2 linked regions of the Homo sapiens genome follow. The protein of the gene in region 1 interacts with the protein of each later gene in a biochemical or structural test. Each region holds a gene or a part of one and is shown on either strand. Other genes may lie near its edges. The genes, in order: CSF3R and HCK.

Region 1 (15,379 bases):
TCTCTACTAAATATACAAAAATTAGCCAGGTATGGTGGCAGGCGCCTGTAATCCCAGCTACTTGGGAGGCTAAGACAGGAGAATCGCATGAACCTGGGAGGAGGAGGTTGCAGTGAGCCAACATCGCGCCACTGCACTCCAGCCTGGGCAAGAAGAATGAAACTCTGTCTCAAAAAAAAAAAAAAGAAAAGAAAAAGAAAAAAAGACTTAGTGGCATTTTCTCTGAGCCTTGAAGAATGAGTAGAATTTCAGCAAGTTGAGGTGGAGGTGAGGGAGGGCACTCGAGGCAGAGAGAACAGCCTGAGCAAAGGCCAGGAGGCGGAAAGTTCAGGGTGGGTTCAGGGAAGAAGGAGTGTCCAGTTTCTTTCTAAGTCAACAGCTCAAGGGCTTTTTGTAAGTGGGCTGTCCAAGCGGAGCAGCCTCCAGTAAACACCTGTTTGCACAATCGAGGTCACACACAGGGGCGCGTTTGCACAATGACCTGTTTGCACAATCTTAGCTGCCTGCTGTATTCCAGCCAACCCCGGCCCTGGCAGCTGAGCACCACAGCCTCAACTTCCGGGCACTCACCCCAGCTTGCCCACCTGGACCCCGCCCCGGCCCCTCTGAAACAAGCTGCTCCTTGACCTACCCAGAAGCCCCACACATCACAGGCAGTAACAGAAACAGAAACAACTCGGGGCTCAGTAGCTAGGCTGCCAAGAATAGGGTTCCCTCACCAGCACTCCCTTACCCAGGGTTTCCAACACACAGAGGCCTTGTCTGATGGAGGAGGGGCGGGAGGCAGGACAGCTGGAAGAGGAAGTATCCACAAAGCCGACACTGGGTGCGGGTAGAGGGGATGACTCCTCGTCTGTCTTGTGCTCTTCAGTGCACCATAGTAAACACTTATTAAGCATTTACTGTGTTCCTGGCTGTGTTCCACAAGCCTTACGGTCACTGATTTCTCTCAAGAATCCTATGAAGCCAATACTGTTAGCCCCATTTTACAGATGACAAAACCGAGGCTTAAAGAGATTAAACATTTGTTTGGAGTCACACAGGCAGCAAGTGGCAAATTGAAGCAGCCTGACTCCTCAGCTCATCATCTTAACCTCAGTACACTCTAAAGAAAGCTCTTCCTTAAATCTAACTTTCATTTCCTTAAATCTAACTTTTATTCTGGCTGCTGCAGCTCCATTTCCTGGTGCAGGTCCTCAACAGAGAATGGAGCACAAAGGAGAATAGTAGAATCTCCCTCCTAAATATTGAATTATGCAGAAGGGAACAAAGGAAAGCAACTTTATTGAACACCTACTATGCGCTGGTTACCATACTAGGCATTGTATTTCTGATAGCTAATTTAATTATCACAAAATCCCTGGGAGGAGTTATTATCACTGTGACAGATTAGGAAACAGAGGCTTGGAAGAGGTAAACACCATCTCCAAGGTTCTGCAGCCCAACAGATATGCATTGAGTATCCTCTGTGTGTCCGGCACTGTACTGAGGCTAGAGAGGCAGAGGTGAGAATACAGTTTCTGCCCTCAAAGAGTTCACAGTATAATGGAGGAGGCAGGCGGCCAACAGCCTACTACAGTATTACAGGATGAATGGGGAGAAGGGCCCCTAATTCAGCTTGACTAAGGTGTGGAAGCCCAGAGGGATGCTGAGCTCAGGCTGGATGCTTGAACTGGGTCAGGAACAGGACTCAGCCAGCAGGAGGTGACAGGCGCTCCGCAGAAGAAAGGCACAGGGTTGTTCCAGAGCCTGGGGCAGGCAGGGAAATACTAGTGAATTTGGCATGACCGGAGCATGACGGGCTGGATCTGAGGAAGCAGGGGCTGGTGAGGCAGGAGAGGGAGGCGAGGGTAACTTGCATGTCCGGTTCAGGAGTTAGGATGTGACGACGGGCCTCTGAAGAAAGACAGGGAGAGGAGAAGGATTGCAGGGCCATTGGCAAGGCTGAGACGGGAGCTCCATAAAGGCAGGAACTAAAACTGTGTCTCACCATTGTGTCCCTGCACCTGCTCCAGGAGCAAGTTCTCTGAATGATGAACAAAAGGCCCATTCTCCTTCATTAAGAACTGACTGGGGCCAGGCGCGGTGACTCATGCCTGTAATCCCAACACTTCGGGAAGCCGAGGCAGGCAGATCACTTGAGGCTAGGAGTTCGAGACCAGCCTGGCCAACATGGCAAAACCCTGTCTCTACTAAAAATACAAAAAAATTAGTCGGGCGTGGTGGTGCGTGCCTGTAGTCCCAGCTACTCAGAAGGCTGAGGCAGGAGAATCACTTGAACCTGGGAGGCAGAGGTTGCAGTGAGCCGAGATCGCGCCACTGCACTCTAGCCTGGGTGGCAGAGCGAGACTCCATCTCAAAAAAAAAGAATGAAAATAAAAATAAAAAATAAATTTAAAATGACCAGAAGGCCAGGTGCGGTGGTTCACGCCTATAAAACCAGCACTTTGGGAGGCTGAGGTGGGCGGATCACTTGAGGTCAGCAGTTCAAGACCAGCCTGGCCAACATGGTGAAACCCAATCTCTACTGAAAATACAAAAATTAGCCAGGCATGATGGCAGGCATTTGTAATTCCAGCTACTTGGGAGGCTGAGGCAGGAGAATCACTTGAACCTGGGAGTCAGAGGTTGCAGTGATCCAAAATCGCGCCACTGCATTCCAGCCTGGGTGACAAAGTGAGACTCTGTCTCAAAAAAAAAAAAAGAAAGAAAGAAAAAAAAGAACTAAAAGAACTGACTGGACATGGGAATGTGGAGAAAGGGTTGTAAGGAATGACTCCTGAGTCCCTGAGCTGCATGACTAGGGAGAGGAGGGGATGGTGGTTAATTCACCATGACAAGGTACGTGGGGATTAGAGACAGATTTGGTGAAGTGGGGGAAGATTCATCCAGTTGATCATTCATTCAACAAACACGCATGGAGGCCTTACTGTGTGGCAAGCAGTGTTATAGACACTGGAGATAAAGTTTTGAACAAAACAGATAAAAACTGTTGCTCTTATGGAACTTTCAGTCTAGTGGGGATTGAGACAGCCAATATCAGATGGTGAAAAGGGATTTGGGGGAGAGAGAGATAGGGAGTGGGAGGGAAGGGGCTTGCAAATTTTGAAAAGGGTGCTCAGAGAAGGCCTCAATGAGAAAGTGACATTTGAGCAAAGACCTGAAGAAGGGGAGGGACCAGCCCATGTAGCTATTTGCGGGGGAAAGAGTCCAGGCAAATGAAACAGCAAGTGCAAAGGCCCTGAGGCAAGAGACAGCATAACAAGTTCAAGAAGCAAAGAACACAGAGTAGCTGGAGCAAGGCAGCAAGGGGGAGAATAACAGGAGAGGGATCCAGGAGGTAACAGGGATACCAGGTTTTGTAGGGCCTTGTAGACCATCCAAAGGGCTTTGACTTTGACTCTGAATGAGACAGGAGCCATTGGAAAGGTTGGGACGAGGATGGGCTGATCAGACTTCTGTTTGATTGATATCGCACTGGCTGCTGAAGGAATTACAGACAGGTGCGGGAACAAGGATGAAATAGAAGCAGGAGAGCAGGCAGGGGGCTATTGCGATTATCTAGGCAATAGATGAGGGTAGCTTGGAGCTGGCTAGTATTGGTTTCAGTTATATTTATATTTTCCAAATATTATCATAAAAATATTCAAACGTAGAGCCAAGTTGAACTTTACAGTGAATACCCAGGATTCTGGTTATATTTGGAAAGAAGAGAGTCCATGGGACTCACTGAGCGAGCAGAGCCTGTGGGATATCTTGGGAGGGTTGCAGCAGGCAGTCAGGTCATTTGACTTGGAACTAGAACTACAGCCCTGGTCTGCAGCATCACACCAGACCCAGATGCCTCAAAAGGATTATATGTTAAGGACAGTCTGCTGGTCTGTTGGCACCTAACCTTTTTTGGGTTATGAATCCAATAAACTATGAGCAGTTTGAACCTTTCTCAGAAAATGCAAAGAAAATTATTTGTAGTTTTAGAAGAATCATGAATACAGACAATAAAAGACATAAAATGTAGTCTATTTCACTCAATTACAAAATATTCAGTGTTGCAGAACCATTGTGGGTAAACATTCCTAATTTTTAGTGAACATATAAAGACCCCGTGCCTCACCAAGACGTCCTCCTGTCTTGCCCCCAGAATTCCTGTTTCTCCATCTGCCTGGTCTATGGGCAATGCACAGAATACGTAATGAAGAGGGGAGCAGTGAGTATTGGGTTACACAATTCCCTGGAACCTGGAACACACCCTTCTGAGTACTGTGAAGATGTGGTCCCCAAGGCTAGAGCTGAAAAGAGGCTTAGGGCCGGGTGAGCCTTCCAGCCAGGGCCTGCCTCCAAGTGATGCTCCCCCAGGGCAGGGGGCATAAGGATGGCACCCAGCCAGGTGGGAGCCTGGGCCCTGCCCAGCCTCAAAGCTTTGAGCTCAGGAAATCCGGAGGCAGGGGAGGGGGACATCGTTGCCACATTCCCCAGCCCTTTAAGACCCCCAAGGCAGGAAGGCTGCCCGGGCCTCACCAGCTTCCCTCACAGGCTCCTTCCTGGGAGGAAGGGGCTGCCTGTGCCCTCGAAGGCGCAAGGGAGGGCAGGAGGGAGGCTCGGAAGGTGTTGCAATCCCCAGCCCCCGGGCCTGTCAGAGGCTGAGCCATTAACGACAGAGCTCGGGGAGAGAAGCTGGACTGCAGCTGGTTTCAGGAACTTCTCTTGACGAGAAGAGAGACCAAGGAGGCCAAGCAGGGGCTGGGCCAGAGGTGCCAACGTGAGTAGGGGATCCCTAGAGAGGGGCTGAGCCTTGGGCTTGATGGAGAGCTGGAATCCTGGGGCCACTCCCCACAGCTCTGCCAAGTGTTCATGTCCGGGGTCCTAGGCCTGGGGCCCGGGATTCGTCCTTTGGAACCCCAGCCCTGGACACTGAGTCTCTTTTCACAGGATGCCCCTACTTTTGGGGGTATTGCACCAGGGAAGTCACTCACAGCCAAGTATCTCCTTGGGGACACTGAGCTGGGCTGGGGACAGGCATAATCATTCTCCCCTCCCCATGCCTCTGTCTCTCAGGACGTGTGTGTCTGTGAGTTCCAGCCGCGCAACCCCTCCCCGTCTGGGTCTCTATTTCACTCTCTGTTTCCATCTTTCCTCCTCAGCTTCTCTCTGGCTTGCTATCTCTCTGAGTTTCTCTGTCTCGCATATTTCCTGCTATCTCTTGAATCTTAAACTCTCGGTAACAGACGCTTCCCGGGCTCCAGGCCTCCGAGTGCCCCCCCCCCGCCCACTCTCTGGGTCGGCGTACATTGGGCCCTTTTTCTCTGTCTCTCGATATCTCTCTGGCCTCAATCGTCCTCTTGGCGAGTCTCTCTGTCGTTTCAGTCTGTGTGGATTTCAGTCACCGCCTCACTCTGTCACTCTTCCTGTTGCTCTCTCTTTTTCTTTATCTGCAGCATATCTGGAAATGCCTCTCCCCTCTGTTTATTCCCAGCCCCCTCCTCCCTCCCCACCCTTCCCACAGAAAGAATCTCGAGGTGAGAGTAGAAACAGCAAGGGAGCGAGGGGTGTGAAGTGGGGAAGAGAGTGTGAGGGGAGAGGGCTGAGCGTGATGAGGGAGAAACAGAAAGAGGGAATGTGAAGGCAGCCAGCCCAGGAGACATCGAGCTGTGCTGGGCCACAGGAGTGAGCACCTGCAGAGCCCAGCAGAGATGGCCGCAGTGACAGGAGGGCCAGGGGGCCCAGGAGTTAGGAGGAGAGGATCCAGAAAGGGGGCTTTGGAACTGCGCAGTGTGGCACAGACAAAAGCAAGGTGGCAGTCCTGGGAGGTGTGACCACACAGGCTGTGAGGGAGGCAGGGGTGAGGGGAAAACTGAACTGTGCTGGATTCTGTGAGCTGCTGACCTGCTATTTATGGCTCGTGAAAATAACCTATGGTTGCTGAGTGCCAACTCCATGCAAGGCACAGGGCTAAATGCCTTTACCAAAATAATCTCATTTCATCCTCACAACAACGCTGAGGAGTGAGTGCTAATGTTATTTCTTTCCCACAGATGGGGAAACTGAGGCTCGGCTCGGAAAGGTGAAGTAACTTGTCCAAGATCACAAAGCTGGTAAGTGGCGGAGCTGGAGATCAAGTCAGGTGACCTGAATCTGAGCTGGGCTCCAAACCTCTCTGCATATCGGCCCCCCAGAGAGTGAGACCATGCTCCAACAGGTCCTAGGCCCACTTAACCAGGCTGGGGGACGTCCAGGGCTGCAGTGGAGGACCAGAGACTGAGGCCAAGCAGGCCAACACCCAGCACCCAGGGGAAGGATGCCGGGGCCTCTTGGGGTTAGGTTGTCTACTCTGGACAGGAGCCAGTGGAGGCGGATAGGGTGGTACTGCACGGGGCATAGGCTGGGCCTGAAGCTGACCCTGGCTAGGGCAACAGGGCTGGGATAGGATCAAAAGCACATGGAGATGAAAACCAGTGTCCCAAAATCTGGGCCTTGGAGGCTAAATCTTCCCCAACCAGTGTTGCGGGGGGATAATCAAACTGGTATGCTATAGTAAGAAGGTTACCAACCACCGATGGGTAGACAGATGCTCGGGATACTTGTACAGGTTTCTCACTGCACAAAACTGAGGAGTAACTGGAGCCGAAATCCAGGCTGTTCCCTAGTTGCCAGGTCCTAGTGTGGTGCTGCATCCATCCAGAGGAAGGGGTGCTTTCTTTCTGATTTGCACAAAGGAGACTTACGGGCTAGCAGTCACTGGGTATTCCGATACTGCAATATATACATGGATAGACTGGGGGTTTGGGTAAGACCCCTGTGAGCAGTAACAACCTTGGGTATCTGGGCAGTTCTTATCCACACCTCTGTCTGGGAGGAAGAGAAAAGGATTCTCCTACCTTTCTCCCTGCTGAGCACGAGGGATCTGCTGGGACACCACCTGCGTGTATGTGTCCAGATATGTACGTGCAAGCTGACCAGCGATTCCCACTGATCTGCCACCAAGAGCACCAACTCGTGCTGGAGGATCAGGTGTTGGCTCCAAGACCCCAATGGGAGCAGGGTGAAGATGAGGCTGGACACCCACCCAAGTGGTAGAAACCTCTGCATACTTCCTAAGACTGGAGCCAAGGCACCCTCCATCCAGGTGCTATGGCCGTGACCTCATGATGCCTGACCCCAGAAGGCCACCAGAGGTCTGTGCCCAAAATTGGGGGCACACTGGACCCTTCGGGTGCCCCACTTGATATTCTCTCAGCCCACATGGCTGAGGCAGCCAGCTTCCTGCAGGCATAACCTGACAGCCCCTTGCCTCAGCTGCTCCATAGAGTTCTCCCTTTCTTCCAGGGAGTGTCCCTGACAACACTGGCATGGCTTCCCCAGGAGAACCTGCCTAGTACTCATGCATGCCCAACCTGGATGTGCCAGGGAATGAACACCCCAAGAGGCATCCCTTGACCAATGGGGGGCAGGAGTCAGTGGGTAAATCTTTCCATCTTCCCTCCCATCCAAGGGATAAATTGACCCTCCAGTGGACAGCTCTGAGAAGTGTTCTACATGGCTCTTTGGAAGGTTCCAGCAGGATAGAGCCCCAGTTGTCCATAGAGGTGACCAACATGATGATGTAACTTTGTGCTGGCTTTCTCTCCTTCCCTGTTTCATTCTCCCCAGTCCCTTATCTGCTGCTAGGATCTTCTCAAAATAAACTACCAGCATGCAATTCCTCATCTCAGGTTCTGCTCTCTAGGGGTAGCCTAGCTTAGATAGCTGGGAAGGCGGAAGAATGCTCTTCCTCACTGCTCCTTTCCCTGCTCTTTCCTGGAAGGCAAGTATAATAACTGTGGCTGTCACTGTCATTTCCTATGTTCCAGGCACTGTGAAAAGCCCTTGACTTGCATCATTTTGTGTCTTCCTCTCAAAGTCCCATGCAGTATAGGCTGCTGTTACTTCCATTTTGCAAAGAAACGAAGGCTCAGAGAAGTCAAGCAACCTAGTCAAAGCTGCACAGTGACAGACAAGGATTAAGATCAGCTCTGACTCCAAAGCCCATGGTCTTAAACAACCCTTCTGCCTACAGGTGAACATCAAGTTGGTGCTATGGCAAGGCTGGGAAACTGCAGCCTGACTTGGGCTGCCCTGATCATCCTGCTGCTCCCCGGAAGTGAGTATGGCCAAGGATGAGGGTGCAGTGGGGAGGGGAAGCTACAAGGAGAGATATTGGGAATTTCCTTGCACTGCCACATGGCTCCTGGGATTCCCAGAGAATCCCACAAGATTCAAGTCTGAGCCACAGATGTGGGGTAGCTGGTCTCCCACCCACAGACTTCCACAGGCAAACCACCACCCAAGAGGAATGGTGAGACGACCCGGGCTGGTCATCCTGGAAAAGGCCAGTGAGGCGCAGATCTTGTCCGCAAATCTCTACCAAGCTGTCAGAAGCAACCCATGGGTCCTATGCAGCCTTGGTGGGCAGCAAAGGGATCAGGATGGAAGCTACAAGGGGACAGGTTTCATCCTGAAATAAAGAAGCCCAGGCAGAGCTTGGTTTCCAACCATGGAAACTCTGTCTTGAGAGGTAGAGAACTTCCCATCCCCAGGGGTATGCAAGCTAAAGCCAGGATTGATAAAGATGCTGTGCAGCAGGGGTTGGCAAACTTTTTCTGACAGTAATGTTTAGGCTTTGCAGGCCACATACTGTCTCTGTTCCTTGTTTGTTTGTTTGTTTGTTTGTTTGTTCGTTTGTGAGACAGGGTCTCCCTCTGTTGCCCAGGCTGGAGTGCAGTGGCACAATCGCAGCTCACTGCAGCCTCAACCTCCTGGGCTCAAGTGATCCTCCCGCCTCAGCCTCCAAGGTAGTGCAGGGCATGCCACCACACCCAGCTAATTTTTTTTTGTTGTTGTATTTTTTTGTAGAGATGTAGTTTTGCCATGTTGCCCAGGCTGGTCTCAAACTCCTGGGTTCCAGCAATCCACCTGCCCTGACCTCCCAAAGTATGGGGATTACAAGCATGACCCGCCACGCCCTGCCTATTGCATGTTTTTTGGTTTTTGTTTTTTTGTTTTTTGAGATGGAGTCTCACTCTCTTGCCCAGGCTGAAGTACAGTAGCGGGATCTCAGCTCACTGCAACCTCCGCCTGCCGGGTTCAAGCGATTCTCCTGCCTCAGCCTCCCGAATAGCTGGGATTACAGGCACCTGCCACCAGGCCCTGCAAATTTTTGTATTTTTACTAGAGATGGGGTTTCACCATGTTGGCCAGGCTGGTCTCAAACTCCTGACGTCAGGTGATCCACTCACCTCGGCCTCCCAAAGTGCTGGGATTACAGGCATGAACCACCGCGCCCAGCCCTGTGGCATGTTTTTATTTGGTTTTTGCTTTGCTTGTTTTTAACTCTTTTAAAATGTAAGAAACATCTTTAGTTGTTAGGCTATACAAAAATAGGCCACTCAAGCCCTGCTGTAGAGGGCAGAGCATCAGGTAGAGTTTTGAAGCAAACAACCTTGTAAAGTTTCTTCCAGCCTGAAATCCTGAGTCTGGGCCGGGCGCGGTGGCTCACGCCTGTAATCCCAGCACTTTGGGAGGCCTAGGCGGGTGGATCACAAGGTCAGGAGATCGAGACCATCCTGGTGAACACAGTGAAACCCTGTATCTACTAAAAATACAAAAAATTAGCCGGGCATGGTGCCGGGTGCCTGTAGTCCTAGCTACTCGGGAGGCTGAGGCAGGACAATGGCGTGAGCCCAGCAGGCGGCGCTTGCAGTAAGCCGAGATCACGCCACTGCACTCCAGCCTGGGCAGCAGAGTGACTCCGTCTCAAAAAAAAAAAAGAAATCCTGAGCCTGTGAAGCAGTAGAAGCCCTTTGTTGAGAATCATGAACTTGCTCTGTGACCCTGGGCAAACTGCTTCTCCTCTTAGGGCCTTCGCATCCCCATCAGTAAAACGGGCCTAAGAACACCTGAGAGAGGACAGAAAGCATTGCGGGCAAAGTGTATGTTGATTTGTTTGTTTATTTATTTATCAAAAAAAATTCATCGGCCGGGCGCAGTGGCTCATGCCTGTCATCCTAGCACTTTGGGAGGCTGAGGCGGGTGGATCACGAGGTCAGGAGATCGAGACCAGCCTGCCAGCATGGTGAAAACCCATCTCTACTAAAAATACAAAAAAAAATTAGCCGGGCATGGTGGTGCGTGCCTGTAGCCCCAGCTTTTCGGGAGGCTGAGGCAGGAGAATCGCTTGAACCTGGGAGGCGGAGGTTGCAGTGAGCCGAGATTGTGCCACAGCACTCCAGCCTGGGTGACAGAGCGAAACTCCTTCTCAAAATAATAATAATAATAAATATTCACCAAGGTCCTACTCTGTACTAGGCACTGGGAATACAGTAATAAGCAAACAGCCAAGGTCTGCTGGCCTCACAGAATTTATAGTCTAGCTGGAGTGATAGATAAGTAAATAATCATAAGACTCTATAATTATGAAGGATAATAAGAGCTTTGAGGAAGTACAGGGACCTTGGCCTCCTCCAGTTCGTTAGTGCCTGGTCTGGTTTCTTCAAGATGCCTAAGCGTTAACCAGGTGAAACAGGGGTGGGAGAGAGAAAGAAGAGTCCCTCCAAAAAGAACAGCATGCCGGGCACAGTGGTTCACATCTGTAGTCCCAGCACTTTGGGAGGCTGAAGCAGGAGGATTGCTTGAGCCCAGGAGCTCAAGATTAGCCTAGGCAACATAGTGAAACCCCATCTCTACCAAAAAAAAAAAAAATCAAAAAATTAGCAAGGTGTGCTGGCATGAACCTGTAGTCCCAGCTACTCAGGAGGCTGAGGTGGGAAGATCACTTGAGCCTAGGAGGTCAAGGGTGCACTGAGCCGTGATCGTGCCACTGCACTCCAGCCTGAGTGACAGAGCAAGAACTTGAAGAAAAAAAAGAAAAGAAAAAGAAAACCAAAACAAAACAACAACAACAAAAAAAAAAAAACAGCAGGGACAAAGATCCAGAGATTAGAAAGATTTTGGAGTTTTCAAAGAATAGCAAGAATGAGCCAGAATAGCTGGAGCTGAGAGACCGGTATAAGCTGGAACTGAGAGGGTCAGGCAGGGGCCAGGCCACAGGAGCTATTGAAGGATTTGAGTGTTTATCCTAATGATGGCAGCAAATACTCACATGCCAGACACTGCTCTAAATGCCTTCCATATGTTATCGCATGTAATCCTTCCAGCAACACTAAGGTAGGGACGATTTTTATCCCCATTTTACAGATGAGAAAACTGAGGCACAGGAAGTCTTAGAAATATACCAGGATCATGTAATTAATAAGCAATAGAACCAGAATTTAAACCTAGGCAGTCTAGTTCCAACATCCACACTCATCCATCACACCACACTGCCTTTCAGAGCAATAATGTGCCATTGAAGTGCTGCGATGGAGATGGGGTAGCAGAATCAGATTTGAATTGTGAAAAGATTGCTGTGGCTATGGGTTCTTATCACTCTAATCACTGCTTGCACCATCCTTGGGGAGGGCACTGGGGAGTTAACAGTCTCCATCTGGTGGTGTGCTGGTGCTGGCTTGCAAAAACTAATTGTGCACATCTCTTCCCAACTCCCCGATCAATGATGTCACATCAATAGGCTGAAATCAGCTACAGTGAGAGCACTTACACCGCGGAAAGGCACACACTACAAACCAGGGTCTGCTTTTCTCTGCCAAGCTGGCTGATAAACGGTTACCAGCACATCACTATCTCTGTGTCACCCCCGTAGCCTCTCGAAGTCTCCGTCCCCATCCTTCCATTTCCAGCCCCCATATCTTGAAGGGTGAGACAGGAAGGTGAGGCCTCTGAGTCTAGGAGTACAAAGGCCTAGATTATAGCCCAGCTCTGCTAGGCAGAGGCGTCGTTCCTGGCCCATTCTCTTCCACCCCAGGTCTGGAGGAGTGCGGGCACATCAGTGTCTCAGCCCCCATCGTCCACCTGGGGGATCCCATCACAGCCTCCTGCATCATCAAGCAGAACTGCAGCCATCTGGACCCGGAGCCACAGATTCTGTGGAGACTGGGAGCAGAGCTTCAGCCCGGGGGCAGGCAGCAGCGTCTGTCTGATGGGACCCAGGAATCTATCATCACCCTGCCCCACCTCAACCACACTCAGGCCTTTCTCTCCTGCTGCCTGAACTGGGGCAACAGCCTGCAGATCCTGGACCAGGTTGAGCTGCGCGCAGGCTGTAAGTCCTTCCAGCCATCCAACTACTCTGCCTCCAACACCCTCCTGCCAATACTAATAAGAATATTACCAGCCGGGCACGTTGGCTCACGCCTGTATTCCCAGCACTTTGGGAGGCCGAGGCAGGCGGATCACCTGAGGTCAGGAGTTCATGATCAGCCTGGCCAGCAAGGCGAAACCCCGCCTCTACTAAAAATACAAAAAAATTAGCCAGGCATAGTGGCGGGTGCCTGTAATCCCAGCTACTCGGGGGGCTGAGGCAGGAGAACTGCTCGAACCCAGGAAGCGGAGGTTGCAATGAGCTGAGATCACACCACTGCACTCCAGCCTGGGCAACAAAAGCGAAACTTGGTCTCAAAAAAAAGAAGAAAAAAAAAAAAGAGTACTACCTATTGAGCTCTTATCTAATAAGCACTTTATGGGCATGATATCAGGTAACAGTAGTACCAGTTGGTACTACTATGTAGCCTCACTTTGCAGATGATGAAACTGAGGTTCAGGGAGGGTAAGTGACTTGCCCTTATCACACATTAATAAGGATGGAGGCAGTGTGGCTCTAAAGCCAGTGTTGTGACCACTACTCTACATAGCCCAAGTCCTCAGCCATCTGAGGGTGTCTCCAGGGAGAACATCCTCTACCAGCTGGGCTTGTCCCCCACCCCAGTTTCAAACTTCCTTTCAAACTGAGCAGGATGGAGTTTGTGCCAAGCTGAGGCATAAGGAAAAAACAAAGACCGAGGTTCTTGTTTAAGAATCAGTAATGGGCCAGGTGCAGTGGCTCACACCTGTAATCCCAGCACTTTGGGAGCCTGAGGTAGGTGGATCATTTGAGGTCAGGAGTTTGAGAACAGCCTGGCCAACATGGGGAAACCCCGTCTCTACTAAAAATACAAAAATTAGCCGAGTGAGCCGAGATCACGCCACTGCACTCCAGCCTGGGCCACAGAGTGAGACTCTGTCTCAAAAAAAAAAAAAAAAAAAAAAAAAGCACCAGTAATGGCCACTGCTAACACTTACATAGCATTTCCTGTAAGTTAGGCACTGTTCTGAGCACTTCATGTAGAGTGAGTCATTTAGCCCTTGTGATAACGCTAGGGGGTGGGATTTTACCATTATCCCCATTTTACAGATGAGGATGCTGAGGCATGGAGCAGTTAAATAACTTCAAGATCACAGGGCTAATGAATGGCAGGACCAGGATGAAAACTCAAACACTACACTGTCACTGACAAAGGGTCTAGAGTTGGGGGCCTTGGAAGTGGGCCACCACTGGGCTGCTGGGAGTCTGTGATGCTTGCCCCGGTGCATGCCTGCAACTTAGCTTCCCCCAGGGCTGCCCTTCCAGAGCCACTCTGCCTGGAGACAGGGGGACAGACAAGGTGACAACAGAGGAACCAAGCCAGGGCAAGGCAACAGGGCCAGCTGGTCCCAGAGGAAGCTTTCTGAGTGGTCCCACCCAAAGCCCTCACACTCTTCCCACCCACATGCAGACCCTCCAGCCATACCCCACAACCTCTCCTGCCTCATGAACCTCACAACCAGCAGCCTCATCTGCCAGTGGGAGCCAGGACCTGAGACCCACCTACCCACCAGCTTCACTCTGAAGAGTTTCAAGTGAGGAGGGGCCCCCACCTTGGTCCCCTCCCTTTGGATTCTGGGGTAGGGCATGGGTAGGATGCTGGGCATGCCTCTGGGAGGGAGAAGGGAGCCTCGCTTTCTTCCTCTGCTTGGCACCCAAGCCTGGACTATTGGCAGGAGCCGGGGCAACTGTCAGACCCAAGGGGACTCCATCCTGGACTGCGTGCCCAAGGACGGGCAGAGCCACTGCTGCATCCCACGCAAACACCTGCTGTTGTACCAGAATATGGGCATCTGGGTGCAGGCAGAGAATGCGCTGGGGACCAGCATGTCCCCACAACTGTGTCTTGATCCCATGGATGTTGGTGGGTGATGCAGGGGAGGGAGGGGATCCCCAAAATGGGCAGACACTGAGAGGAATGGAGAGGGAAACACAGAACTAGCGACAGACAAGAAGACACTGGAAGACCTAGAGACAGAGGCACAGAAGAGGGACAGAGACAAAGAAAGGTGCAGCTGGAGACAGAGAAATGGGGACACAGACCCAGAGACAGGAAGAGACACAGAGGCAAAGAGACACATTCAGTCATGCTTTCAGCGTGTTTCCTAAAGCACCCACTACATGTTAGGCACTGCTCTAGGTACTGGGGATACAAAGCATCAAAAATGCCCTCAGAATGTTAGATTCAAGTGGGGGGGAAAATAAGATAGAATTTCAGATAGCAATAAGCAGAAAGGAGAAATTAAAGGAGGAGAAGGGCATAGAGAGAGAGGGGGGAAGGGGAGCACTGGCTATTTTAATATGCTGGTCAAGAAAGGCCTCACTAAGAGGGTGACAATTGAGCAGATCCTTGAAGGAAATGAGGGAGCAAGCCGCTGGATATCTGGAGGGAAAACATTTCAAGCAGAAGTAACAACCAGTGCAAAGGCCCTGGGGCAAGAGCGGAAACAGAGACCTAGAGAGAAACAAAGACACATAGAGATCGAACCACAGAAACGTGTCATTGGCAACGTGGACAGATGGTGAACCACAGACAGGGAGACAAGAGGGAGCTAAGGCAGAGCCCTCTAGGGTGGGATAGGGAGACCTTCTGACAGCCCCACTCCTTGCAGTGAAACTGGAGCCCCCCATGCTGCGGACCATGGACCCCAGCCCTGAAGCGGCCCCTCCCCAGGCAGGCTGCCTACAGCTGTGCTGGGAGCCATGGCAGCCAGGCCTGCACATAAATCAGAAGTGTGAGCTGCGCCACAAGCCGCAGCGTGGAGAAGCCAGCTGGGCACTGGTGAGGCAGAGGGCAACCTGGAGAGCCTGAGGTGGTGGGGGCAGGGGGCAGGGTAAGTCGGGCTCGAGCTGGCCCTAGAATGGCCCAGCGATCCAAGGCTCAGAGTCCTGTCCACCCCTCACCAGGTGGGCCCCCTCCCCTTGGAGGCCCTTCAGTATGAGCTCTGCGGGCTCCTCCCAGCCACGGCCTACACCCTGCAGATACGCTGCATCCGCTGGCCCCTGCCTGGCCACTGGAGCGACTGGAGCCCCAGCCTGGAGCTGAGAACTACCGAACGGGGTAAGGAGGTGATGAGAGGCTGGGAGCAGCCAACAGTATCCAGTCCA
Region 2 (15,842 bases), on another chromosome or scaffold:
TAAGACATATACGCCATGATGGACTAGTGTGTGTATGTGTGTGTGTGTGTGTGTGTGTGTGTGTGTGTGTTTTGACATAAAAGGAATTGTGCTGCAGGAATCATGAGTAGTATCCTCCTCAGTTCTCCCCCTTTTTTTTTTTTTTGACAGAGTCTTGCTGTTGTCAGCCCAGGCTGGAGTGCAGTGGCAAGACCTTGGCTCACTGCAACCGTGCCTCCCGGGTTCCAGCAATTCTCCTGCCTCGGCTTCCCAAGTAGCTGAAATTACAGGCGCCCGCCACCACGCCCGGCTAATTTTTGCATTTTTAGTAGAGACGGGGTTTCACCATGTTGGCCAGGCTGGTCTTGAACTCCTGACCTCAGGTGATCCACCTGCTTTGTCCTCCCAAAGTGCTGGGATTACAGGTGTGAGCCACCGTGCCCAGCCTCAGTTCCATTTTTTTTTTGGATTTGGGAACTGAGGCTCAGAAAGGGAAGAGATTTGCCTAGTGCATCACAACCTGTCTTTGGCAGAGCTGGCACTCAGACTCGGGGTCGTCTACTGTACTGTACCCACTGTTCTTCATTTCTATGGTAGAGATGAGGCTGGGATTCCTGTTCTCTTGGCTGCACTTACATCTCCTGGGCCAAAGGATTTCAGGGTGATGCCTGGAACTCAGGGAGGTGACTCGAAGGGAGAGTCAGGAGCGCACGTCCTAGCGCAGTGCCATCCAGAGGATGCAGCATGTGGGACCACAGCCGGGGCCAAGACCAGGGCACATTTACACTTAAGCACAGGCTGCTTCTGCATCATTACCCACGCCTCTGAAAGTACCTTCAAACTCCCAGTCCTGTGGGGGAGGAAACTGGAGAAATGGGGTGGGGACCAACATGTGGTTGGTGCATGTGGTGGGGTTTGTTTAGAAAGGCAGAAGTGATTGCTTGATGACTTGTGGTATAAAAAAAGAAAAATAAACAACAACAAAAAGATGTAAGAAAGAAAGAGGCTGAGAGAGATTGTGCTACTAACTTGCTGTGTGACTTTGGGAAAGTCAATTACCCTCTCTAGGCTTCACATTCCTTTTCTTTTCTTTTTATGAGACAGGGTCTTGCTCTGTCACCCAGGCTGGAGTACAGTGGTGCAGTCTCAGATCACTGCAACCTTCACCTTCTGTGCTCAGACGATCCTCCCACCTCAGCCTCCTGAGTAGCTGGTACTACAGCCATGTGCCACCACACCCAGCTAATTTTTGTACTTTTTGTAGAGACAGGGTTTTGCCATGTTACCCAGGCTGGTCTCGAACTCCTGAGCTCAGATGATCTGCCTGTCTCGGCCTCCCAAAGTGCTGGGATTACAGGGTGAGCCACCGCACCCAGCCCTTCATGTTCCTTTTCTATAAAAAAGGAAGCCTTGTCATGACCCGAAGGGTGGGGTTTGAAAACTCAAATGACTATAGGGATGTGGAGGGTTCTGCGGATGAGGAAAGTGGGCCTGGCAAGGGCTGTGCAAGCTGGACAGCCCAGGTGTAGCCCCCAGGGCAGCCCCCAGCTCCACTGAGGTTGTCTGAAGAGCACTGGAGTCGTGGGTTCTAGTCTCAGGGCTGCTAACTCTTCTAATGTTTTAGGAGACAGAAATCCAGATTATGTGAGCTCTCCTGAGTTTAAATGTTAGCAACTAATTAAAAATAATCGCTGCGGGTGGAGGGGTGTTCGGGGAGGGCAGCTGAAATATCTCAGGCAAGGGAGGGAGGAGGTTGTCCAACATTCATTGCGTTTGTCCCATCAGTGTTTTTTTGAGGCCCTACTATGTGCCAGGTGCCAGGTGTTAGAAGATACAGTGGTTTATAGGACAAACATGTTTGTGCTCTTGTAGAATTTACTTTCTAGAAGAGTTTAAAGTCCAAGCCCTGGCTAGTCCTTAGAATGTAGACAACTTTCTCCTTACTTTCTGAGGTAAGAGCCCTCAGAGGGCAGCCTGGTTTGAATGAGATTAAGATTCGTGCTTTCTGTACCCATTAGAATGGTAATAATAATACTAATAAAATATAAACATAGTAGGCATTGGCAAGGATGTGAAGCCAATTGAAACCCTTGTATATTACGGTGGGAATGTAAAATGGTGGAAAACAGCATAGCAGTTCCTCAAAAAGTTAAAGATAGAACTACTGTTTTTTTTTTTTCTGAGAAGGAGTCTCGCTCTGTCGCCCAGGCTAGAGTGCAGTGGCTCGATCTCGGCTCACTGCAAGCTCCGCCTCCCGGGTTCATGCCATTCTCCTGCCTCAGCCTCCCGAGTAGCTGGGACTACAGGCGCCCACCACAATGCCCGGCTAATTTTTTTGTATTTTTTTAGTAGAGACGAGGTTTCACCGTGTTAACCGGGATGATCTCCATCTCCTGACCTCGTGATCCGCCCGCCTCAGCCTCCCAGAGTGCTGGGATTACAGGCGTGAGCCACCGCACCCGGCCACAGAGATAGAACTTTTATATGACCCAGTAACTCTACTTCAGGTATATACCCAAAGGAATTGAAAACAGGTGCTCAAACAAATACATGTATGCACATGCATGCTCATAGCAGTATTATTTTCAATGGTCAAAATGTGGAAACAACCTGAATTTCCATCTGTGGATAAATGGGTAAATAAACTGTGGAATATCCATACAATGGAATATTATTTGGCCACAAAGGGAATAAAGTACTAATAGTTGCCACCATGTGGATGAACCTTGGAAAACATTATGTTAAGTGGAAGAAGCTAGACACAGAAAGTCACATAGTATGCTTCTATTTATGTTAAATATCCTGAATAAATTAGTCCGTAGAGGCAAAAAGCAGATTGGTGGTTGCCAGGGGCCGGGGGAATGGGGGGTAATTGCTTAATGGGTACAAAGTTTCCTTTTTCAGGGGTGATGGAAATGTTTAGGAGCTACTGACAGGTAGTGTTTGTACAACATTGTGAATATACCAAATACCACTGAATTGTTCGCTTTAAAAATCATATAGTTAATTTTATAAAGTTATGTGAATTTCACCTCGATTAAAATATTTCTAAAAATTTTGAACTATATAAAAGATTGCTCTGCTAGAAAGGTTAAGCAAATTATAATACAGGCAAACAGTGGAATATTATGCAGCCACTAAAAATTTAAGAACATTTTAATGACCTGGAAAATGCTACAATGTAATACTAAGCAAATAAATAGGATAAAAATAATCTATGTGTAGCATTATACTAATTATGTTAATTTAAAAGTGCATAGAAAAGACTACATAAAGATACATGAAAATATTGGTTATTGTTCCCTCAAAAGGTTCATGCTTCCATTTTCTTGAACACTTATTAAGTGCCAGGCATAGTGAGTAAGGCAAGTGAAGTGCCTTACAGCAGAGAACATGAGGCCTGAAAGAAAGGCCATTGATCCAGAGACGGCTGGGAGATCAGCAGAGCAACATTCTTCTCTCTTCTCTGCCCCAGAGTCCCTGGTGACCCTTCTGGGCTACAGTACTCCTCTCACACAAAGGGGAGTGTGACAGGTGCCCTCTCTGGGGAGCCATCCAGCCTTTTGGTGTTTTCCTCAAGAACCACCTGTACATGGGCCGAAAGCTACACATCCAGGATGCTCCTGTCAATATTGTTCGTTGTAGTGAACGCCTAGGAACAACTTGAGTATTTATCCACAGGGGAAAGAGAAATACTGTAGAGTCGTTACCTGCTGGGATACTCCACAGCAGCTGGAAGGAATGAATGAGGCCTCTATTTTCTATTTCTCATCCTGGGTAGATTTTGACAACTTAATGATAAGATGGGGCAAATATGCTCCTCTGCTATCCCCATTGTCAGAATTGCAGAAAAGTCTCACAATTAGATAGTTTTTTGTTTTGTTTTGTTTTGAGACGGAGTCTCGCTCTGTGGCCCAGGCTAGAGTGCAGTGGCACGATCTCGGCTCACTGCAAGCTCCACCTCCAGGGTTCACGCCATTCTCCTGCCTCAGCCTCCCCAGTAGCTGGGACTACAGGCGCCCGCCACCATGCCCGGCTAATTTTTTGTATTTTTAGTAGAGACGGGGTTTCCCCGTGTTAGCCAGGATGGTCTCGATCTCCTGACCTCGTGATCCGCCCGGCTCAGCCTCCCAAAGTGCTGGGATTACAGGCGTGAGCCCCCGCGTCCGGGCTTTTTTTTTTTTTTTTTTTTTTTTTTTTTTTTTTTTTTTTTTTTTTTTTAGGTGGAGTTTCGCTTTTGTTGTCCAGGCTGGAGTGCAATGGCGCGATCTCGGCTCACTGCGACTTCTGCTTCCCCGGGTTCAAGCGATTCTCCTGCCTCAGCCTCCCGAGTAGCTGGGATTACAGGCATGAACCACTGCATAGATAGCATTTTTAAAGCACACAAAACAATCCTACGTGTTGTTTATGCGTACATTTATATGCAATCCATTTTCAGAGGCACATCCTGGAAGGACTGTAACTCATGACAGCGGTTGCCCCTGGGGAGGGAGAGAAACAGGACTGAGAGTGATACAAGGTGGGGAGACTTCAATTTTTTCTGTTACTTTTAGTAAATTAATTTTTTAAAATCTCAAAACAAACACAACAAAATGCTATTATTTGTTAATTCTGGATGGTGGATTCTCGGGACATCTAATATATTATTATCTTCACTTTTCTGTATTTTAACCTGTCACCCCCTCCCCTAAAAAAAAAAGGACCATAAAGAGAAAACCATGGGATAAGGCAACTGATAGGCATTGAGGCCTTTCTCTGTGCCAGGCATAGGCTACCCCAGTGGTTCTCAAAGTGTCCTCCTTGGATCAGCAGCAGCAGCATCACCGGGGATGGAAGTTCTCATTGTCCTGCACAGAGCTACTGAATCAGAAACTCTAGGATTCGGCCCAGCAATCTGTTTTCACAAGCAGTCCAGGTGATGCTGATGTAGGCTAAAGTCTGAGAACACGGGGCCATATGTCTAGCTAGGGCAATGTTAACATACATTAAGCCTGTGTACTGTCAGACAGCATTCTCAAAGCTTTCCTTCAGTAACTTTTTTTTTTTTTTTTTTTTTTTTGAGACAGAGTCTCTCTCTGTCGCCCAGGCTGGAGTGCAGTGGCGCGATCTCGGCTCACCGCAACCTCCACCTCCCAGGTTCAAGTGATTCTCGTGCCTCAGCCTCCCGAGTAGCTGGGATTAAAGGTGTGTGCTACTACGCCCGGCTAATTTTTGTACTTTTAGTAGAGACGGGGTTTCACCATGTTGGCCAGGCTGGTCTCAAACTCTAGACCTCAAGAGATCCACCTGCCTCGGCCTCCCAAAAAGCTGAGATTACAGGCGTGTGCCACCCTGCCCGGCCCCTTCAGTACCCAATTAATCCTCTAAACAACCCTGTGAAGGAGGTACTATTACTCTCCCCATCCTGCAGTTGTGAAAACAGAGGCAAAGAAAGGCCAAATCCTCTACCCCAGCCCCAACAGGCAGTTTGCCCCTAGAAGCCCCCTCCGCTACCCACTAGCCTGTCTCTCACACGCACCACCTCTCGCATACTCCAATTTCCTGCATCCTTGCAAGAAAGACTTCATAGCCCCGTTTTACAGATGAGGAAACGAATTCGGAGGCGGAGAATTCGTCCAAGGAGGAAAGAGACAGGGCATGCATGCAGTGTGGTCTGGGGCCAGGAGGTTTGGGGGTTTGACCTAGACCTGTTGTGGGAGGAGGGGCAGAGAGCCGACCAGCTGCAGCCGGCCTGGGTGTGGCTCGCACGTCACGCCTCCGCCCAACTACCCCCTTCCCCAAGCTGGCTGCCAACCCGGCGTGACCCGGCCCCCACCGGGAACCGTAAGGGCCTTCCCCTTCCCGGGTTCTGTGAAGCCCCATCCCTTCCTTCTTTTTCTTTTTTAAATTAAAAAAAAAATCCCCGCCCCCCCCCAAGAAGGGGAACCTGGACGGCCCAGAGAAGTGGTGGATAAAGTCACTGCACGGGCCCGAGCGTCCCCTTCCCCGGGAATCCAGCAGTCCGCAACAGTGCCGCCCCTCCCTAGGGCACCCTCCACTCGCTGTCGACCCCTCATCCCCCGGGCTACCCGCGGCTCCCCCGACGTTCCGTCTCCCCTCGCTGCCCCCAGCCGCACCCGTAGCCAGCCCTCCCCAGGCTCCTGGGCTCCCTCCGCCTCCTGGGACCCCTCGCGGGCCGGGTATTCCCGGTCCCCTGTGCGCGGCACTCACCTGGGCGCCCGCTCCTCGTCTCGCGGGCAGCCCGGATCCTCGCAGCTTGAGCGCCCCCCCAGCTCGGCAGCCCCTGAGGTTCCGGGGTGCCAGTGCCGGGAAACTGACTTTCTAGAACTAGAGGCGGGGGCGACGCTCTGAGGGGCTTTGGTGCCGCGGGCGTTTCTCGTCCTGCACTGTCTGAGTCCCTTCCCACTCGCCTCTAAGCCTCTGATGTGCTCCCGAGCTGGGACCAGGGACGTGGTGGCGCCCGCAGGCCATCTGGGCGCCTTAGCCGCGCCCTGAGCGAGGCTAACTCCGCCCCAAGTGTCCTAACACCTCCCCGAAGATTCAGACGCCACCCCAGGATCCTAACCGGCTCCCCGAGGGTCATAACCTCCGTCTCCTGCAAGAAGGATCCCAAACCCTCCACGAAGAGAAAAAAAATATTAGCACCATCCATAGGAGGCTTCTAACGCGTCCACCAAGGATGCGAACCCCCATCCCTTCCGCTCCACTTTCCCTAACACCTCCCCATCCCACCGCCCAGCGTCCTACCCCAGTCTCCAAAGGATCCCAAATCCCACTCCTAGGGATTCGAACCCGCCCGTCTAAGAACCCCAGCACCCGCTCCAAGGCTCCCAAGATACTAACCCCGCCCCGCCAAAGGATTTTTAATCCCACCTCTGAAGGATTTTTAAACTCAACTTGCCCCCAAAGATTCTAATCTGCCCAGTGGAAGGATCCGAACTCTCACTTCAGTGGATTCTAACCCTGCCCTAAGATTTAGAACACAAACCCCAGGGTTCCAATACCGCTCCTGCTCCTGCGCGATCTAACCTCCCGCCGCCTAAGAGTTTTAATACCCAGGGGTCTATACCGCCGGTCCAAAGATTCCAACCCTGCCCTTCAGAGATCCTAACCCCACCTATCAAGGGATTCCTGCCACAGTCTTCAAAGATTCCAACCCACCCTGGAAAGGCCTTACCCTACCCCGGAAGCATCGTGATCTCTTTTCCCCACCACTCCGACCCCTCCCTTCTGGCCCGGCCCTCCCCAACTCCGCGGCCCGAGACTTCCAGGCAGGTCTGTGGTCAGCGGTTTCTCTTCCGCAGGCCTGCTCCATTCAGACACCATGCAAAGTTCCTCTCTCGAAGGAACCACCATGGCCATGCAAAGTTCCCTGCCCGAAGGAACCACCCTGGCTTCCTGGCAGCTCAGAGGACTCCCAAGCTGGGGGAGGTGGTCGGGGGAGGGGAGGAGTCGGGCTGGAGGGTGACTGAGGCCCCAAGTGGATGGGATTGTGCCCAGCTCCAGGCAAGGGCAGAACACACCCTCTCCTGGAAAAGACAGGGGCTATCACCCTAAATGCTGTGTAACACACCTCCAAAATCTCCAAAACTACAAGAATTCTACCGCGTCTCTCTATTCCCGTTGCTACCAGCTGATCAGGACCACAGTCATTTCTTCATTCATTCATTCATAATTCATTCAGCAAAGCTGTCCTGGGGGCTGGGGAATGCAGGGGTTCTTAAATTTGGCACTATTGACATTTGGGCCAGGTAATTCTTTGTTGCGGGGGACTGTCCTGTGAATGATAGGATGTTTAACAGCATTCCTGGGCTCTACCCACTAGTTGTCTATAGCATCCTCCTCCCTAGTTGTGACAACAAAATGTCTCCAGACATTTGTAAAATGTCCCCTGGTGGGGAAGGGGGGAAGAACCATGAATGAGAAAGACAATGACCCTACTCTTATGTTTTTGGTATATGTACCTGTATGGGCCTTTTTTCCTTCTCTTTAGCCTACAGTGCTAACTATTTTGAGGGGGTCTCCCATCCAAGTACTAACCAGGCTTGATCCTGCTTAGCTTCCAAGATCAGACAAGATCAGATGTGTTCGGTGTGGTATGGCATAGACAACTTAAAAAAAAATAGAGATGGGGTCTTGCTGTATTGCCCAGGCTAGTCTTGAACTCCGGGGCTCAACTGAACCTCCTGCCTTGGCCTCCCAAAGTACTGGGATTATAGGTGTGAGTCATTGCACCTAGTCTGTATGTGCTTTTTATAAAAACAGATAATGTTCTGAATGTATGTTTAATGTTACTTATTCACTTTTGTACATTCCCTCCCGCCACCCCCATCACTGTTGTTAATATCCAGCCATGTTGCCAAAGGTAGCGGCTGTACGTGTAGTCACTGTTTACATCCTTCACATTTTATTTATCCATTCTCCTAGTCATGGACACCTAGATTGCACACAATTTCCCACTAGTGTAAATAGTGCCACAGTGGACATCCTCATACACGTCCCCTTATCGTCCTACATTAGAATTTTGTTAAGTACTTGCTTTGCCAAGAATGACAGGTGTTTGCAGAATCGCCACTGCCCCACTCTTTCTCCCATCATTTCCCCTTATCTTTACCAACCCTTGGTATTATCCACTGGTCTTAATTTGAGTTCCCCAGAAGCAGACCCTGGACATGGATCCAAGTGAAAATAGTTTATTTAGGAGATGCAGAAGACACTGGTAGGGGAGTAGGTGGATGAGACAGGGAAGGGAGGGAAGCCAGTAAAAAGGAATATCATGAAGCCAGTTACCATTGTGGGCAACTGGAGTTCAATTCTGCAGGGATCTCTGGAGATATACCCACTTCAGGGTTACTCCACCTGTCAGGCGAGGGAGCTGGGGCATTTACACACCAACTCCTGTTGGACACCGGATGAGGGGTACTCCAGGGGTACTGACCTTCCAGCATTTTGGCCTCCCTGGTGCATGCTTCAGCCACCAGAGGGTCTCCAGGAAGAGAAGTGCAGCTCTTACTTAAGGCCCAGGGGGCATCGGAGGGTCCGCATTAGCATCAGCTACATCTCCTTTCAAAAGTTTGCCATTCTGATAGTAAAGAGCCAGAGAGCTGACACATGTTCCTGTTCATGGACAGTTTCCCAAATGTTTTGTCCTGACAGTAATGCTGTAATTGAAATCCTTGTGTATGTTCCCAAAGCTTCTGTCAACTTTATCGTGACATAATTTCGTGAATAAAATCTACCATCATAAATATTCAGCTTGATGAGTTTTGGCAAATATATATACCTGTGTAACCACCACCCCAATCAAGATATAGAACATTTCTATCACCCCAAAAAGTTCCCTTATGTCCTATTGCAGTCAACTCCTCCCACACTTAGGTAGCCTTAGGTAAGCACCAATTGGCTTTTTGCCATTATACATTAGCTTTGTCTTTTCTAGAATTTCTCATAAATGCAGTCATACAGTATGTTTCTTTTGTGTTTGTCTTCTTTTACTCAGAGATTTTCCATGTTGTTGCATGTTCCAGTAGTTCGTTCATTTTTACTGCTGAGTAGTATTCCATAGTATAGATGTAACACTATTTGTTTATCCATTTATTTGTTGAGAGACATTTGGGTTGTTTTCAATTTGGGGCTATATAAATAAAGCTGCTATAAATATTTATGTACAAGTTTTTGTGTAGGCATATTTTTATTTCTCTCGGGTAAATACTTAGGATTGGAATTGCTGGGTCATATAGCAAGTGTGTGTCTAACTTGCAATAAATTGCTGAATTGTTTTTCTTTTTTTTTTTTTTTTGAGGCAGGGTCTTGCTCTGTCACCCAGGCTGGAGTGCAATGGCGAGATCTTGGCTCATTTTAACCTCTGTCTCCTGAGCTCAAGTGATCCTCCCACCTCAGCCTCTGAGTAGCTGGGACTACAGGTACACCACCATGCCCAGCTTATTTTTTTTTTTTTTGTAGAGATACAGTCTCACCGTGTTGCCCAGGCTGGTCTTGAACTCCTGTGCTCAAGCCATCTGCCTGCCTCAGCCTCCCAAAGTGCTGGGATTACAGGTGTGAGCCTTTGTGCCTGGTCTAAATTGGTTTTTGAAGTGGTTACACCATTTTGCATTCCCTCCAGTGATTTATGATTTCCAATTGCTCCACATCCTTGCCAACATTTGGCATTATCATTCTTTTCAATTAAAAAAAGTTCCCATCTAACCCATATTTGCACCAAATAACATTTATACAATTACAAATTGTATTCTAAAACACCCCCTTACCAGTCTTTGGGGGTGGCAAACATTTTGTCTACTCAATTATTCATTCATTCATTGTCATGGAGACTATAGCTGACCACAAAAGTGGTGCTAAGGGCCAGGTGTGGTGGCTTACACCTGTAATCCCAGGACATTGGGAGGCCAAGGTGGGCAGATCACCTGAGGTCAGGAGTTCGAGACCAGCCTGGCCAACATGGTGAAACTCCGTCTCTACTAAAAATACAAAAATTAGCCGGGTGTGGTAGTGGGTGCCTGTAATCCCAGCTACTTGGGAGGCTGAGGCAGGAGAATTGCTTGAACCTGGGAGACGGAGGCTGCAGACAGCCGAGATCGTACCACTGTACTCCAGCCTGGGGGACAAAGCAAAACTCCTCAAAAAAAAACAAAAACAAAAACAAAAACAAAAACAAAAGACTGGTGCTAAATGCTCCATCGTAGGAGTCCAACTAGAGTTCAAACCTGGCACTGCTGTTATCAACTGGGTAATGTTGTACAAAGAGGTGACTTGATTGTCACCTCTTTGAGTCTCAGTTTCCTCATCTGTCAAGTCGGAATAATACTACTACTTACCTCAGTGGGTCATTTTGAGAATGAAATATAAGTAAAGTGCTTAGGTTTGCTATATATAGATGGTCAATTTCATTAGTACAGCCTAATCATTAAGATTTCAAACTGCTGCTTAGGCACTGATTCAAGTATAATTTGGAAATCACCTTTGTCACTCTGCCTTGTTCCAAAGATAAAAGAAGGAGCATATGACTTTAAAAAGGAGACATTGCCCTGTGGGTAGTGGACCCTTTTCAACATGGAATAAAAGGAACTCTGAAATGAGGGTGGACTTTGCTGTGACTGAAGTCTGGAGAACCAAGTGAGTCCTGGGGCAGGAGGCCAATTCTAGATCAGGAGTAACAAGGCCCAGATTCTAGTGCTCCTTCCACCTCTAGACGTGTAGCCTTGAGCAAGCCATTTGATGTCTCTGATTCTCTCATTTGGTCAACAAACATAATAATGGGCACATACTGGGTAATGAGTCTTGAGTGTTAGGGAACACAACAGAGAATGAGGGAGCCGAAATCCCTGGCCTCATGGCATTTTCCACTTACTGGAGGGCATTGGACAAATGGTTGCACCAATAAGGGCAGGTTGGAATTTTGCAACAAGCACTATCAAGGGGTGGGGCTCCATGCAGGGGCTTTGACAGGTTAACAGGGGAAGGTAGGGAAGCCTCCCCAGAACAGGTAATATCTTTTTTTTTTTTTTTTTTTTTTTTTGGAGACAGATTCTCACTCTGTTGCCCAGGCTGGAGTGCAGAGGCGCAATCTCAGCTCACTGTGACCTCCGCCTCCCAGGTTCAAGTGATTCTCCTGCCTCAGCCTCCCGAGTAGCTGGGATTACAGGTGCCTGACACCACACCTGGCTAGTTTTTGTATTTTTAGTAGAGACAGGGTTTCACCATGTTGGCCAGACTGGTCTCGAACTCCTGACCTCAGGTAATCCACCGACCTCAGCCTCCCAAAGTGCTGGGATTACAGGCATGAGAAACCGTGCCCTGCCAATAAATTCTTATTGTTTCAAGCCTTTAAGCTTCGGGGTAGTTTATTATGCAATCTTGATAACCAATACAATACACAAAAGCCTCAAGGAAAGTAGGTGCTTTGTGTGTCTGAAGAACCCCATTGTGTCTAGCAGAGGAGGGAGACCCAAGGTGAGGTCCATGAAATTGGCCAGGCCACTCAGGACCTTGCAGGCCTCTGTGAGGAGCATAGGTTTTATTCTAACATACATGGGACGCTATTGGATGGTTATAAACAGGGGAGTGGCATGATAATTCATTCACTCAACAAATATTTATGGAGCACCTACTATGTGCCATGTGCTATTATTGATGCTGAGGATACAGTAATAAACAAAATTAATTCCTTCCTATGTGCTTAGAATTTACATTATTGAGGGGAAGATGGATAATAAACAGATACTGAAAACTCATCCCATGTTTGGGAATGATATGGGTTATAAGAAAACTAGGGAGGTCAAGGGGAGAGGTAGTGGGATGGAGAGGAGCGATGGTGTAACTTGAGACAGGGTGGTCAGAGAAGGCTTCTCTGAGGAGGTGGCATGTGAGCAAGACCTTTTGAATTGGAGAGATAAGTCATGTGATAATCTGGAGGAATTGTGTTCCAAGCAGAAGCACCAGTAACAGCAAAGGTCCTGAGAGGCAACAGCACGTGGTGTGTTTAGGGAATACAAAGAGCCCATTGTGGCTGGAACACAGAGGGTGCAGACAAGAGTGGTGGAGACAGTGTTGGAGAGGTAGTAAGTGGGGTCATATTGTGAAGGCCACAGACATCTTGGTATCGATATTAAATTTTAATTGACACAAGATGGGAGCTGTTGGAGGGTTTTGTTTGTTTGTTTTGAGACAGAGTCTCACTCTGTCGCCCAGGGTGTACAGTGGCACGATCTCGGCTCACTGCAACCTCCACCGCCTAGGTTTAAGTGATTCTCCTGCCTCAGCCTCCCAGGTATCTGGGACTACAGGCGCCCGCCACCACGCTTGGCTAATTTTTGTATTTTTACTAGAGATGGGGTTTTGCCATGTTAGCCAGGCTGGTCTCGAACTCCTGACCTCAGGTGGTCCACCTGCCTCAGCCTCCCAAAAGTGCTGGGATTACAGGTGTGAACCACTGTGCCCAGCCCTGTTGGAGGGTTTTGAACAGAGGAGTGAGCCAAACTGGCTTATCTTTTCACAGGATCTGTCTGGCTGCTGGGTAGAGAATGAATTGGAGGGGCAAAGGGAAAGGAGGGAAACCAGTGAGCAGGGAGAGAGTCATCCAAGGGCAAGATGATGGGAGCTTGGGTCAGAGTGGTAGCAGCTGACGACTAAAGGAGCTCAGAGAGAGAAAACATCAGAATGCCTAAAAGAATTCATAGTATGTACAGGAGAATCATCGCAGCACTTCTTTTACTAGGAAAAGACAGAAAATAACCTAAATGCCCATGATTTGGGACGTGGGAAAATAAATCTTAATAAAATAATTGAATACTAAGCAGTTGTCAAAAATAATAAGGATATATAACAACCAACTGTACCTGGGCACGGTGGTGAAACCCTGTCTTTACTAAAAGTACAAAAATTAGCTGGGTGTGGTGGCGGGCGCCTGTAATCCCAGCTACTCAGGAGGCTGAGGCAGGAGAATCACTTGAACCCGGGAGGTGGAGGTTGCAGTGAGCCGAGATTGCGCCATTGCACTCCAGCCTGGGCCACAAGAGCGAAACACTGTATTTAAAAAAAAATGTATCTCTATACACTAGTAATAAACAATCTGAACATGAAATTAAGAAAACAATTTTATTTATAATATCACCAGAAGAATAAAATACTTAGGAATAAATTTAACAAAAGTAGTACAATATACTCTGAAAGCAAGAAAACATCCTTGAAAGAAACTTAAGACCTAAATAAAATCATCCCATGGGTTGAGAGAGACATCTCATGTTCATGGATTGGAAAACTTAATAGTGTTGATGATAGTACTCCCCAAACTGATCAATACTATCCCTATCAAAACCCCAGTTGCCTTTTTTTTGGGGGGGGGTGGCAGGAATAAACAAGTTGGTCCTAAAATTCATATGGAAATGCAAGGGACCTAGAACAGCCAAAATAATCTTGAAAAGAACAACAAAGTTGCAGAACTAACACTTCCTGATTTCCAAAACTTACTACAAAGTTACAGTAATCAAGACAGTGTGGTATTGGCATAAGAATAGAAATATAGGTCAATGGGACAGAATTGAGAGTTGAGAAATGAACCCTCACATTTAAGGCCAATTGATTTTCAAAAAGAGTGCCAAAACAATTCAATAATGGAAGAAAACAGTATTTTCAACAAATGGTGCTAGAACAACTCAATATTCACGTGCAAAAGAATGAAGTTGGATCCCAAAATGGATCGTAGATCTAAGTGTATGAACAAAAACTATAAAACTCTTTGTGTGTGTGTGTGTGTGTGTGTGTGTGTGTGTGTGTGTGATGGGGTTTCACTTTGTCACCCAGTTGGAGTGCAGTGGCGCGATCTTGGCCACTACAACCTCCACTTCCCAGGCTCAAGTGATCCTCCCACCTCAGCCTCCTGAGCAGTTGGGATCACAGGCGCACACCACCACTCCGGCTAATTTTTTGTATTTTTGGTAGAGAAGGGGTTTCGCTATGTTACCCATGCTGTAAAACTCTTAGAAGAAAACACAGAAGTAAATTTTCATGACCTTGGGCTAGGCAAATTCTTCTTAGATGTGATACAAGTGACAAAAGGAAAAAATAGATAAATTGGACTTCACTGAAATTGAAAACTTGTGCTGCAAGTGATACTATCCTGAAAATGTAAAGACAACCCACAGAATGGGAGGAAATATTTGCAAATCACAGATCTGAAAAGGGACTGGGGTCCTGAATATATACATAGGATGGCTCAATAATTTAAAAATCCACAACTTAAAAGTGGGCAAGAGATCTGAATAGATAGTTCTCCAAAGAAGCTATACAAATGGCCAATAAGCACATGGAAAGGTGCTTAATATCATTAGTTATTAGAGAAATGCAAATCAATTCCACAATGAGATTCCACTTCACATCCATTAGAACTGCTATAATTTAAAAAGACAGATAATAACAATTGTTGCTGAGAATATGGAGAGATTCCACCTCATACAATGATGGTGGAAATGTAAAAGGAGCAGCTGCTTTGGGAAACAGTCTGGCAGTTCATCAAAAAGTTACACATAGAATTACCTTATGACCCAGCAATCCCACGCCCAGGTATATACCCAAGAAATCTGAAAATATATGTCTACACAAAGATCTGTACATAAAATCTTCATACCAGCATTATTCATAACAGCCAAACAGTGGAAACAACTTCAATGTCCCTCAATGGATAAATGTGGCATATCCACCCAATGAAATATTATTTGGCAATAAAGAGGTATGAAGTACTGATACAGGCTATGATATGGACGGACCTTGAAAACATTATGCTAAATGAAAACAGCTGATCATAAAATACCACATATTATAAAATTCAATTTATATGAAAGGTCCAGAACAGGCAAATCTATAGAAACAGAAAAGAGGTTGGGCACAGTGGCATATGCCTGTAGTCCCAGCCACTCTGGAGGCTGAGGTAGGAGGATCACTTGAACCCAGGAGTTCAAGACCAGCTTGGGCATCATGCTGAGACCTCCATCTCTACTTAAAAGAAAAAGAAAGGAGATTATTGGTTGCATTGGGCTGGGAGCTGAGGAGAAATAAGAAGTGACTGCTAATAGGTACAGGGTGGTTTTGGTGGGTGGGTAATGAAAATGTTCTAAAATTGATTGTGGTGACAGTTGCACAACATTTGAACATACTAAAAACCATTGCATTGTAAAAGTTAAACAGGTGAATTGTATAGTACGTAAATTTATAATTCAATAAAAATGCTTTTTACAAAAGAAGGAGGAAGCCCCTTATGTACTAATAGAGAACAATGCAAAAATATAGCTGTAAATAGGGAAGAAATTGAGGCGTCCAACAGCTTCTATTGTATTTCACTATTTGTGCAG

The links.
Region 2: the proteins of CSF3R (region 1) and HCK form a complex in vitro, tested with the Homo sapiens proteins (one study listed by BioGRID).

The regions. Positions count from the first base shown.
Region 1 is NC_000001.11:36,472,191-36,487,569, reverse strand, and holds the start of CSF3R (granulocyte colony-stimulating factor receptor isoform a precursor), read left to right. Parts: upstream 1-4,656; 5' UTR 4,657-4,759; intron 4,760-6,032; 5' UTR 6,033-6,092; intron 6,093-7,489; exon of another isoform or gene 7,490-7,583; intron 7,584-8,053; 5' UTR 8,054-8,073; coding exon 8,074-8,137; intron 8,138-11,896; coding exon 11,897-12,193; intron 12,194-13,682; coding exon 13,683-13,806; intron 13,807-13,947; coding exon 13,948-14,135; intron 14,136-14,883; coding exon 14,884-15,053; intron 15,054-15,178; coding exon 15,179-15,332; intron 15,333-15,379. UniProt on the Homo sapiens protein: Receptor for granulocyte colony-stimulating factor (CSF3), essential for granulocytic maturation. Plays a crucial role in the proliferation, differentiation and survival of cells along the neutrophilic lineage.
Region 2 is NC_000020.11:32,042,834-32,058,675, reverse strand, and holds the start of HCK (tyrosine-protein kinase HCK), read right to left. Parts: upstream 6,435-15,842; 5' UTR 6,252-6,434; coding exon 6,190-6,251; intron 4,461-6,189; exon of another isoform or gene 4,397-4,460; coding exon of another isoform or gene 4,395-4,396; intron 1-4,394. UniProt on the Homo sapiens protein: Non-receptor tyrosine-protein kinase found in hematopoietic cells that transmits signals from cell surface receptors and plays an important role in the regulation of innate immune responses, including neutrophil, monocyte, macrophage and mast cell functions, phagocytosis, cell survival and proliferation, cell adhesion and migration.